Linked DNA regions of Homo sapiens. The protein of the gene in region 1 purifies or fractionates together with the protein of each later gene. This does not show direct contact. Each region holds a gene or a part of one and is shown in the gene's direction. Other genes may lie near its edges.

Region 1 (4,404 bases):
CTAATCCCCAGTGTGCAGATATGGGCTTCTCATCAAAGTCTCAAAATTTTCTGGACAAAAGACCTGAGAGGCCACTTTGAGAAGAATGTGGTACACTTGGAAGAGGGCAAGATCCGGAATCTAGACTCTGACTTGGTGTCCTGCCTGGCTGCTGCTGGCTGTGGGACTCTGAGCAAGCAATTGACCCCTGGTCTTTAGTCTTCTTACCTGAAACCTGGGGCAATAATATCTACCTGCCAGGGTGACCAGAGATATGATATTATGGGCCTATGTGTGCGTGCTCATGAACCGTAAAGCACAGTACAGCTATCAGACACTTCTACCCAAAACCCATGTTCTATCCATGGGGAAATGGAGATGCACACAGCTAAAGTAACTTGCCCGAGGCAGCACCAGCAATCAAAGTCAGATCCAGGACTCTAATCTGGGAGGTGAGATTCCAAGTCCACTGTTCTCTCCACTCTACTCTGCTGCCTCCAGACTTGGAACAGACCTCAGGAGGAATGCACACTGGGCATAAATGTGTCCACAAGGGAAATCAGGCTGACCGTGGGTCACCAAGTTCATGGTTGTCCCCCTTCTCTTCCATCCGGATGCCTGCTCCAGACAGTCACTGAAGGCTGGAGGTGGTGCTGGAGCTCCTGCAAGGGAGAGACAAGAGAGGGCAGGAGTGGCTTTAGGGTCCTGAAGCCTGAGAGGGGCTTAACTGGGGTTAAATAGAATCCAGAGTGCTAAATAGATGTCAGGGCCTCCAGAGGCTGTGGATGCCAACTGCAGCCCTCAGTCACCTTGGCCATCCCAAAGGAGTCCTCCACAGGGACACTGCTCCACACACTAGGCTGTGCAGATACTAGTGAATTGCTCAGAGCCCTGCCCAGGCCATGGACTCCCTCCTTTCTGAAGCATGGCTGACTTTTATTTAGGGGCTGATGGAAGTGAGGCCAAAGAGGCAGAGGAGGACCATCCAACACTAAGGCCAGTCAGTGGATTGAGGGGTTGGGGGTCTAGAGAAGAGATTAGTATCCACCAGGCCCCTAGACCATGGGGAGTGGGAAGGAGGAGTTACTCGTTGGCCAAGAGCTACTCTGTAGATCCACATACTGGCCAATGGGTCCCCAGGCTGGCCAGTGAGGACAAGGAGGAGAGAGTTGGTTTCGAGTTCTTTGACACCAACTCTTTTCACTCTCTTTCAAGCAATTTGGGAGGCAGACAGGGAAGTGCCTAAGAAGTGTGTAAATTATGTTTGCAAACATTTGTTTATTTAATCTGCTGAGATCAGAATTGTGAAATTCATGGTGGAAAAACTAAGGCTCAGAAAGGTTTAGCAATTTGCTCAAGATCAAACATGTAGTGAGCTGTGGGACAAGGAGTCCAACTGGGTGGATAGAGACTAAAGAAGCAGGGAGGGAAGGGTCTGGAAAAGCCACTGGTCACAGCAGCAGGAGGGTAACCCATGGCAGTACAGTGTGGACAGCTGATCTGGCTCTGTGGAGAATGGGCTGTGCTTTTGAAAATCAGGAACTCAAATCTGCTTGGTGTTATTTGAATTCTAAAATGGGTGCCTATTTTCCCAAATTAGCCAACCATGAAGTAGCTGACATAAAGCTTGCAAAAGCAAGAATGAACATTTTACGCTTTTTTTTTTTTTTTTAATTTTGAGACAGTCTTGATCTGTTGCCCAGGCTGGAATGCAGTGGCACAATCTCAGCTCACTGCAACCTCCACCCACCGGGTTCAATCGATTCTCATGTCTCAGCCTCTCGAGTAGCTGAGTTACAGGCGCTTGCCACCACACCCGTCTAATTTTTATATTTTTTAGTAGAGACGGAGTTTCACCATACTGGCCAAGCTGGTCTCGAACTCCTGACATCAAGTGATCTGCCCACCTCAGCCTCCCAAAGTGCTGGGATTACAGGCGTGAGCCACTGCGACTGGCCATTCTATGCATTCTAAATAAAGCAAATGTCTGCGGCATTTGAGCATTTCAGCTCAATTTCAGCATTGAGCCTGCTGAAGCAGGCGCTCTGCTTTCTGTGGCAACGCTGCTCAGAAGTGTGTCATGCCAGCCCTTGATAGGTCATAAGTTATGTTTCACATTTACTTATCTTGAGATGTGGGCCCCGCACTGGCTGTAGTGACTGGTAAGGTGAGAAACAGCCCAGGGTTGTGCCTCAAAGACTGAGTCAAAAAGTTCAGGGACTTTTTCATTTCCTGTATATGCCCATCCTTCCAAATTATGGCAATTATTGCCAGCAATTAGGTAATGAACCAGAAAAATGTTTTCTATTAACTTTATCAGAAAAAAACAATTTCCCTGATGAAATAAAATGTTGTATCATTGGCTGCAAACGCATGCTGAAGCAAAACAGAAAAGCTCAGTTGATTTTGACGGGTTTGATCAGATGGGATGCAGCTGTTTCCTTCTTTCCTATTTGGCTGCCCTGAGGCTGAACGTCTGTGTTTGGAAGGGTCTAGGGAAAGGGAAAGGTAGGATCACCACAGGAGGGAGGGAAGGCCCATTGAGGGGGTCTGCCCAGCAGCCCCAGCCCAGGCCTTGCTCCTCACCTTACCCCACCCCCAGGTTTGCTCACGGCGGGTCCCTGGCAGCCATGATGGACGAGACCTTTTCTAAAACTGCCTTCCTGGCTGGAGAGGGGCTGTTCACACTAAGTCTCAACATCAGGTTCAAAAAGTAAGTATGGGCCCCTGGGGCATTGGCCAAAGTCACAGACCTTTTCATCCCTGGAAGTGGCCATCCTCGGCAGCTGGGGTGTAGGAGCCCTGCCTGCCACTCTCCTTCCCCAGCCCACTCCCAAGCAATTCCTCTAGTCCCTGGCCAGGACACAGCCTCTGCTGTCCAACTTTGGGAGCTGACAAAAAGGCCCTGAGCCCAGGGCCACTTCTGAGTCCTCGAGGCCGGGAGGGATGAAGAGAGGGAAGAGGACACAGAGAGTGAAGGGATGGGGAACCGGGTTCACATGAGAGATGGGCTAAGCTGCCTCGTCTCCCAGCTTGATCCCCGTGGACTCTCTGGTTGTAATGGACGTAGAACTGGACAAGATTGAGGACCAGAAGCTTTACATGTCCTGCATCGCCCACAGCAGAGACCAGCAGACAGTTTATGCCAAGTCCTCAGGTAAAGGAGCCCCCAGCCCAGCCCCAGGCCCCGTCCCACCACCACCCACCCCCAGAACAAACAGGAGGAAGAAAAGATGCCAATGATTCATCCCAAGCTGCGGTCCAGCTTCTTTAGGGGTGGGATAGGGCACCTACTAGGGACACAGATGAAGCAAGGGAGAGCAGAACTAGGATTTTTTTTTCTATATATGAGTTATCCAACCTGTAACGAAAGGACAGGACCCAGGTAATGGGTAATTTGCAGCCAAATGCTCAGAGTGTCCATCAAGCTCCAGCCATCTCAGTGCAGCTCTTGCAGCTCAACTCACCCTTCTCTTGCAGGTGTTTTCCTTCAGCTGCAGTTGGAAGAAGAGTCTCCCCAGTAACAGTCACTGTGCCTGCAGGAGAGCCACTGCCTCCCCTGCCTGCCTCCTGCCTCCTGCCTCCCCTGCCTGCCTCCTGCCTCCTGCCTCCCCTGCCTGCCTCCTGCCTCCCCTGCCTGCCTCCTGCCTCCTGCCTCCCCTGCCTGCCTCCTGCCTCCTGCCTCCCCTGCCTGCCTGGGACCCATCAAAGAGCAGGGAGGGGTCCTCAAGCAGCAATTGGTGAGGCGAGGGAAAGGACCCTTTTCTCTGAGTAAATAAAGTCTCACAGTCCCATTCTCGGCCCAGGGCCTTTCTGTGGTTGGAAATCAAAATCCTTCCAGGGCATCTCACATACCCACCTTCCCATTCAGCACCGACTGAAAAGATTTACTGAGTACCCGCCAGGTGTCAGGCACTGTGTGAGGCACCAGGCACCCAGAAGTGAAAGACAGGGCCCCGGTCTCAAGATGCACAATGCGGGAGCCAGGTGCCAAGTCAGAGTGCCCTATCACGCTCCTCCCACACCCACCCTGGCTTCCATCATGAGTGCAGTGTCATCTCAGCGGGAGGAAGGGCTAATTTTACTCTACAAAAGCAATCAGAAAACATCTTCTAGAAGAAGCTCTTCCTGAACTGTCTCAAAAGTTAAGTGGTGTTCATTAGGCAGGCAGGGGAGAGGAGGATATCCCAGGCAGAAGGGAAGTAAGAAGTAAGACAAAGGTGCAGAGGTGTGAAAGTGTACAGGGACTTTGGAGAAGAGCAAGGTGTTGAGGAGGGCAGGCGTTTAGGGAAAGAGAAGGTGGGCAGGAGCAAACCACAGGAAGGCTTCATAATCCCTGATGGAGAGCTGGAACTTTGTCTTGCAGGCAACAGGGAGCCTCCAAAGGGCTTGGGCTGGGGAGTGACAGAGCTTTGTTATTTAGAA
Region 2 (7,292 bases), about 99 Mb from region 1:
CAGACTGGAGTGCAATGGCACTATCTCGGCTCACTGCAACCTCCGCCTCCCAGGTTCAAGTGATTCTCCTGCCTCAGCCCCCTGAGTAGCTGGGATCACAGGCATGCACCACCATGCCTGGCTAATTTTTTTTTTTTTTTTGTATTTTTAGTAGAGATAGGGTTTCGCCATGTTGACCAGGCTGGTCTCAAACTCCTGACCTCAGGTGATCCACCTGCCTTGGCCTCCCAAAGTGCTGGGATTATAGGTGTAATTTACCACACCCAGCCAAGATTTTTTTAAAATAAGAAAAGAGCATGAGTTCTATAAATCGGTCCTAGGTCTGAGTCCTGGTTCCAACATTAATTTGCTCTTTGACCCTGGATAAGTTACTCTGCAAGTCTAAGATTCCTCATCTGTAAAGTGTTGATAATTATAACTCCCTCACAGGGATTACTGTGAATATTTAAATAAGACAATGAATGCAACATGAATCTTGCTTTCATGGAGCGTATAGTCCAGTGGGAGACACAATTAGGAAGTAAACATATAGAATTACAGCTTGTGCCAGGTTCTCTGAGGGAAAAAGAACACTGTTCTCTTAAGAAGAATAATAAAGGAAGGGAGATGTTTTAACTTGGATGATCAGAGAAAGCTTCTAAAGTGGTGATACTAGACTGAGACCTGAATGACAAGGAGGGAAGTCAGTAACATAAAGGCGGGCTCCTCGGCACTGCCCAGGAGTTCTGGAGTATTTCCCCAGTAAACTAGTGTTCCTAACAGTAGTTTCAGATGTTCTTTGCTCTTCTCAGACTTTCTACCATTTATCTTAGGAAGAAAATTGAAGCCATCAGATAAAATTCCCTTAACTCCATGTAAACCACTGCTTCCAATTTTTCTGAGTGATCTTTTTTTTTTTTTTAATAGAGATGGAGTCGCACTATGTTGGCCAGGTTGGTCTTGAACCCCTGGCCTCAAGGAGTCCTCCTGCCTTGGCCTCCCAAAGTGCTAGGATTATAGGCGTGAGCCACCACATCCAGCCTATCTTTTTTTTTAATTAAAAAAAATTATTTTTTGAGACAAGGTCTGATTCTGTTTCCCAGGCTGGAGTGTAGTGGCATGATCATAGCTCACTGCAGCCTTGAACTCCTGGACTCAAGCAGTCCTCCTGCCTCAGCCTCCTAAGTAGCTGAGATCACAGGTGCATGCCACCAACATCTGACTAATTTTTAAAAATTTGTAATGGAGATGATGTCTTTCTATGTTGTGCAGGCTGGTCTTGAACCCCTGGGCTCAAAGCAGTCCTCCCACCTCAGCCTCCCAATTACAGGAATGAGCCACCACACTCAGTTTTTTGTTTTTTGTTTTTTGTTTTTTCCCAGTCAGGGTCTTACTCTGTCACCCAAGCTAGAGTGCAATCATAGCTTACTATAATCTCAAACTCCTGGGCTCAAGCGACCCTTCGACCTCAGCCTCCCGACTAGCTAGCTAGGACTACAGGTATGTACCACCATGCCCGACTAATTAAAATTTTTTGTTGTTGGGATGGAGTCTTGCAATGTTGCCCAGGCTGGTCTCAAACTCCTGGCCTCGGGTAATCCTCTTGTCTCATCCTCCCAAAGTACTGGGATTATAAGCATGAGCCACTGTGCCTGCTCATTATTTCTTTAAGTACTTTTTCAGCCACACTGTCTTTCTCCTGTCCTTGAGATATTCCAGTGACACAAATATAGCTTTAGGTTTTTGGTTTTGGTTTTTTTCCCATTCTGTTCTTGTTATTTAAATTAGGTAATTTATGTTGTTTTATCTTCTAGTTCACCAGTCTTTTTTCTCTGTTCTCTATTTTACTGTTGACCTCAAGCATTATTATATTTTTCACTTCTAAAATTTTTATTTGATTCTTCTTTATATCTTCTCTTGCCTTGCTGAGTCTGTTTTCATTTTTTTCTTTTTTTCCTTATTAAATTTTTTTTAAATTTTTTTTTTTTTTTTGAGATGGAGAATCTTGCTGTGTCGCCCAGGCTGGAGTGCAGTGGTGCGATCTTGGCTCACTGCAACCCCTGTCTCCCAGGTTCAAGTGATTCTTCTGTCTCAACCTCCTGGGTAGCTGGGACTACAGGCGTGTGCCACCATGCCCAGCTAATTTTTGTATTTTTAGTAGAGATGGGGTTTCGTCATGTTGGTCAGGCTGGTCGCGAACTCCTGACCTCATGATCTGCCTGCCTTGGCCTCCCAAAGTGCCACCGCGCCTGGTCTGTTACTCATTTTTTTTCAAGCATATTTGTTTACTTTTGAAAATTTAATTGCATTTTTTTATGGCTCCTTTAAAATCGTTGTCAAATAATTTTAACATTTCTGTTACCTTACTGTTGGCATATATTGATTATCTCTTTTTGAGTTTGAAGTCTTACTGGTTCTTAGTATGATTCAGAGTAATTTTTTATTGAAACCAGGACATTTTAGGTGATATGAGACTTTTCTGTTTTAGTTTGAGTCACTGACGTCACTCCAGCAGTGGAAGGTAGGAGCACTGCCTTGTTACTGCCAGATTGGGGTTAATGTTCTTTGTAAAAATTTTTATAGGCCAGGCACAGTGGCTCACGCCTGTAATCCCAGCACTTTGGGAGGCCGAGGCGGGCGGATCACGAGGTCAGGAGATCAAGACCATCCTGGCTAACACGGTGAAACCCCGTCTCTACTAAAAATACAAAAAATTAGCTGGGCATGGCAGCGTGTGCCTGTAGTCCCAGCTACTCCAGAGGCTGAGGCGGGAGAATGGTGTGAACCCGGGAGGTAGAGCTTGCAGTGAGCCCAGATCGCGCCACTGCACTCCAGCCTGGGTGAAAAGCGAGACTCCGTCTCAAAAAAAAAAAAATTATTTTATTTTATTTATTTTATGTTATTTTATTTTATGTTATTTTTATTTTTTATGTTATTTTATGTTATATTATTTTGTTATGTTTTATGTTGTTATTTTATTTTATTTTGTTATTTTATGTTGTTTTGTTATTTTATTTTATGTTATGTTATTTTGTTACGTTATGTTATTTTATTTTATTTTGTTATTTTATGTTATTTTATTTTGTTATTTTATTTTATGTTGTTATTTTATGTTATTTTATTTTGTTATTTTATTTTATGTTATGTTGTTATTTTATTTTATGTTATGTTATATTTGAGGTGGAGTTTCGCTCTTGTTGCCCAAGCCGGAGTGCAATGGTGCGATCTCAACTCACTGCAACCTCCGTCGCCTGGGATCAAGCGATTCCCCTGCTTCAGCCTCCCAAGTAGCTGAGATTACAGGCAGGCACCATCAGGCCTGGCTAATTTTTTGTGTTTTAGTAGAGACGGGGTTTCACCATGTTGGCCAAGATGGTCTCGATCTCCTGACCTTGTGATCCATCCGCCTCGGCCTCCCAAAGTGCTGGGATTACAGGTGTGAGCCACTATGCCCAGCCAGATTAGGGTTAATGTTCTTTCTGGTTCCCCACTTGGCTTCTCTTGACACCCAAGGTGCAGGGCTATGCAGAGGTTGGAATTCTGACTCCCCACTAGGATTCTATTGATACTTCCCTAAATGAGAGGGGTATGGGTATGTCATTTCTGCTTCCCAGTTGGCTTCTACTGACACCATGTTGGGAGGAGGTGGCCTCATTACTGTTGGGCAGTTGTGAAAGTCCTGACTTTCCACTAGACTTCCTATGACAGCACCCCAGCAGGGAAGCAGGTAGAGAACTTCATCGCTGCTTGATGAGTGTTGAAGTTCAGGCTCCCCAGAAGGTATCTACTAACATCGTGGTGGGGGATAGTTCTTACTACCCAGCAGGAATGAAAGTCCTTGCTCTCTACTCAGACTTCTCTAACACCTCCCCTGTGGGCAGATTGGGGCAAGTAATTACAGCCTGGCAGGGGTAGAAATCTAGGCCCCTATTGGCATTTGCTGGCATGGGTGGAGCTGCAGTTTTTTCTGTCGTGTTTGGCTGAAGTAGAGCAGTTACTGTCTACTAGCTGTTTCCTGTCTTACTAGTTGCTGCTTTCCTGGTACGTTGGCTAGAGAGAGCAGATTTTGGGGGAGGTTTTTGTCTGTGCCCATTGGTGTTTCCAGGCTGCTGGCTCCTTCAACTTTAGATCTGGGATATATGACCAGAAAAAAACCAGGAACTTTTCTGCGTTGTTCCATGGGTCCCAAGGTCCCCCCTAGCTGATCTGCTTTCATCTCTTCACCTTTCAGAGTGATCTAGCTCCAGCTCACCTTCAGCCTCATTTCTTCTGTCCCATTTGCATGCTTATATCCCCAGAAATGCACTGCATCTATGGCTCTAGCTATTTCTTATGTTCAAGCAATATAGAAAGAACTACTTGCCATTTCCTAACCCCGTGATATGCTTTCACATCTTTAAGACTTTGCTTATGTTGTATATTCTTGCTTTAATATACCTAACCTTCTTCCTCTTTTTTTTTTTTTTTTGAAATGGAGTCTTGCTCTGACGCCCAGGCTGGAGTGCAGTGGCGCCATCTCGGCTCACTGCAGCCTCCGCCTCCCAAGTTCGAGTGATTCTCTGCCTCAACCTCCCAAGTAGCTGGTATTACAGGCGCGCACCACCACACCCATTTAATTTTTGCATTTTTAGTAGAAACGCGGTTTTGCCACGTTGGCCAGGCTGGTCTCGAATTCCTGGCCTCAGGTGATCCATCCGCCTCGGCCTCCCAAAATGCTGGCATTATAGGCATGAGCCACTGCACCTGGCCTACTAACCTCCTTTCTCTATCTTTGAATTCTTCCAGCATTTTCAAAGGCCTTACTCAAAGATCACCTCTCCCATCAAATCTTTTCCAGATCTTCATTCATGATGGTTTACTTCCTTTTCTTTGTTTTTGTGATACTTTATACTTGACATTGATATACCATATATCTCATTTTGTTATGGCTGTTTGTGTCTTTTTTACTCCATGGGATTATGAATCCTTTGACTATAGGGGCATATCTTATTTTTCTTTGTATCTACAACATTTAGAGTACTTGACATATAGTAATTGTTTAATAAACTGTTTGCTGAATGGACCCCATCATGAAATTTACTCTCCTGAAATAGAGTGCAGGTAATTTGAAAGGCTGTCTCTAGAACTACATTGTTTAATCGAAATGTAATTTTAAATTTACCGGTGGCCACATAAAAAAATAAAAAGAAAAACAAGTGCAACGAGTTTTAATAATTTTTATTTAACCCAATATATTAAAAAATGATCATTTCAACCTGTAGTATATATAAAAAATTGAGATACTTTACATTATTTTGTTGTATTAAGTCTTCACAATCTGGTGTATATTTTGTACTTTATAGCTGACCTCACTTTGTACCACCTGCTTTCCAAGTGCTCTCCAGCTGTGTGGAGCTAGTGACTATGTATTGGGCAGCACAGCTCTAAAATGTAATGGAGTTCTTAATATGTAATTAGTCATTTTTGTCCACTTTGGCAGGTTTTGCACAGGCCTTTCTTGATTTTAACTGTGTAACTGTAATTAAGTCTGCAAAACTCATTAGAGAATAGTGCTCCCTTTTAAAAACACCTCATTTCTAATTTAAGGGTGACTGGCTGGCAGCCTAGCTGCATTTTGAGTATGGGCCAGCTAAGATGCCGCCTTAGAGTTCCTCTCATGACTTCAGGCTATTTATTTACCTGTCCTCAACTGCTCATTCACCCCATACTATTCTTAGACTACCTGTTTTTGGCATGATTGTTACTTCTTTCACAGTCAATGTTGTTTAGTTGATATGTGATATGTTGATGTGCCTCCAGAGTATCATATGCTTGTGACACTGTTGATTGGTAGACAGGTAGATCTCGAAGGCACTTCAAGAGGTTACTGTGTCGACTTCATTTACATTCATCTGCAGGAGGGGGAGTGTGGGGGGAAGCTGTAACTACTATATATATATATATATATATTTTTTTTTTTTTTTCAGAGACAGGTTCTCACTCTGTCACCCAGGCTGGTGTGCAATGGTGCAATCATAATTCACTATAACCACAAACTCCTGGGCTCAAATGATCCTTCCATCTCAGCCTCCCTAGTAGCTAGGACTATAGGCATGACCACTGTGCCCAACTCGTTTTCAGTTATTTTGCAGAGATGGGGTCTTGCTATGTTTCCCAGGCCTAGATCGCTTTAATAAGGTTTGAGATCTGGCTAGTGGTTTATTAATGAATTACAAGGCATTAAGTGCATGCTAAATATATTATGTGTATATGTGTTTGTATAATAATATGTTAAGGTGAATTTAAAGGATAGGCTAGAAATGTATTGGTAACAAATCAAATACCTTAACACAAGGTTTATACCTCACTTGTGGTACATAAACTCTGCAAGTCCATAGAGGATTCTGCTTCATGGTCACCCTAGGGTCCAAACTGATGGAGGGTTTCTCCTCATATAACTATACTCTCTAGAACGTGAAGTCTCCTCGTTTGTCATAGCAGGAAAAGACAGCATGGAAAATCATGCACTGGCTCTCAGGTGCTTCAACATATAGTGCATTGGCCAGAACTAGGCACATGGCTCCAGCTAACTCCAGGGATGGGCTGGGAAATGTAGTTGTCTGGTAAGGTAAGAACTAGATGTTAGTGGATATCAATAATGTCTGCCACAGTCCTGATTCTGCCACTTGCTAGCCCTGTGATCTTGGAAAGCCACTCTCTGAGCCCCAGTTTACTCATCTACAAGTTGTAAACAATAATAATCTCACCTAAATGAATTGTGATTATCAGACGAGATACTGTTACATGGGAGCGCTTTGGAAATGTAAAGTGTGATGGAAATTTTGGCTATTCTTTAACTGTTTTTTGAATTTAAAACGCTGCTTGTTTTTCCACAGGTCTATTGAATGATGGAACTGTGGGTATTTTTAGGGGCAACCAGATGCGCTTAAAGCGAGCCTGCATTCGCAAAGCAAAGATCTCTGCTGTTGCTTTCCGGAAAGCTTTCTGCCACCACAAGTTAGTGGAACTTGATGCCACAGGTGTGAATGCTGATATCACGATTACAGACATTATCAGTGGGCTTGGCAGTAACAAATGGATCCAGCAGAATCTCCAGTGCCTGGTGCTGAATTCATTAACTCTCTCCCTCGAGGATCCTTACGAGCGCTGCTTCAGCCGGCTTTCTGGCCTTCGAGCTTTAAGCATCACGAATGTTCTCTTTTACAATGAAGACCTGGCTGAAGTTGCCTCATTGCCAAGATTAGAGAGCTTGGATATTTCTAACACCTCAATCACAGACATCACTGCTCTACTGGCCTGCAAAGACCGACTCA

Evidence for each region.
Region 2: the proteins of THEM5 (region 1) and ZYG11B purify together in Homo sapiens (co-immunoprecipitation; 2 studies listed by BioGRID and IntAct, with this or other methods). This does not show direct contact.

Annotation. Positions count from the first base shown.
Region 1 is NC_000001.11:151,846,470-151,850,873, reverse strand, and holds the end of THEM5 (acyl-coenzyme A thioesterase THEM5), read left to right. Parts: exon of another isoform or gene 1-641; intron 642-2,581; coding exon 2,582-2,692; intron 2,693-3,011; coding exon 3,012-3,136; intron 3,137-3,459; coding exon 3,460-3,503; coding exon of another isoform or gene 3,504-3,754; 3' UTR 3,755-3,773; downstream 3,774-4,404. UniProt on the Homo sapiens protein: Has acyl-CoA thioesterase activity towards long-chain (C16 and C18) fatty acyl-CoA substrates, with a preference for linoleoyl-CoA and other unsaturated long-chain fatty acid-CoA esters.
Region 2 is NC_000001.11:52,764,166-52,771,457, forward strand, and holds part of ZYG11B (protein zyg-11 homolog B), read left to right. Parts: intron 1-6,854; coding exon 6,855-7,292. UniProt on the Homo sapiens protein: Serves as substrate adapter subunit in the E3 ubiquitin ligase complex ZYG11B-CUL2-Elongin BC. Acts to target substrates bearing N-terminal degrons for proteasomal degradation with the first four residues of substrates being the key recognition elements.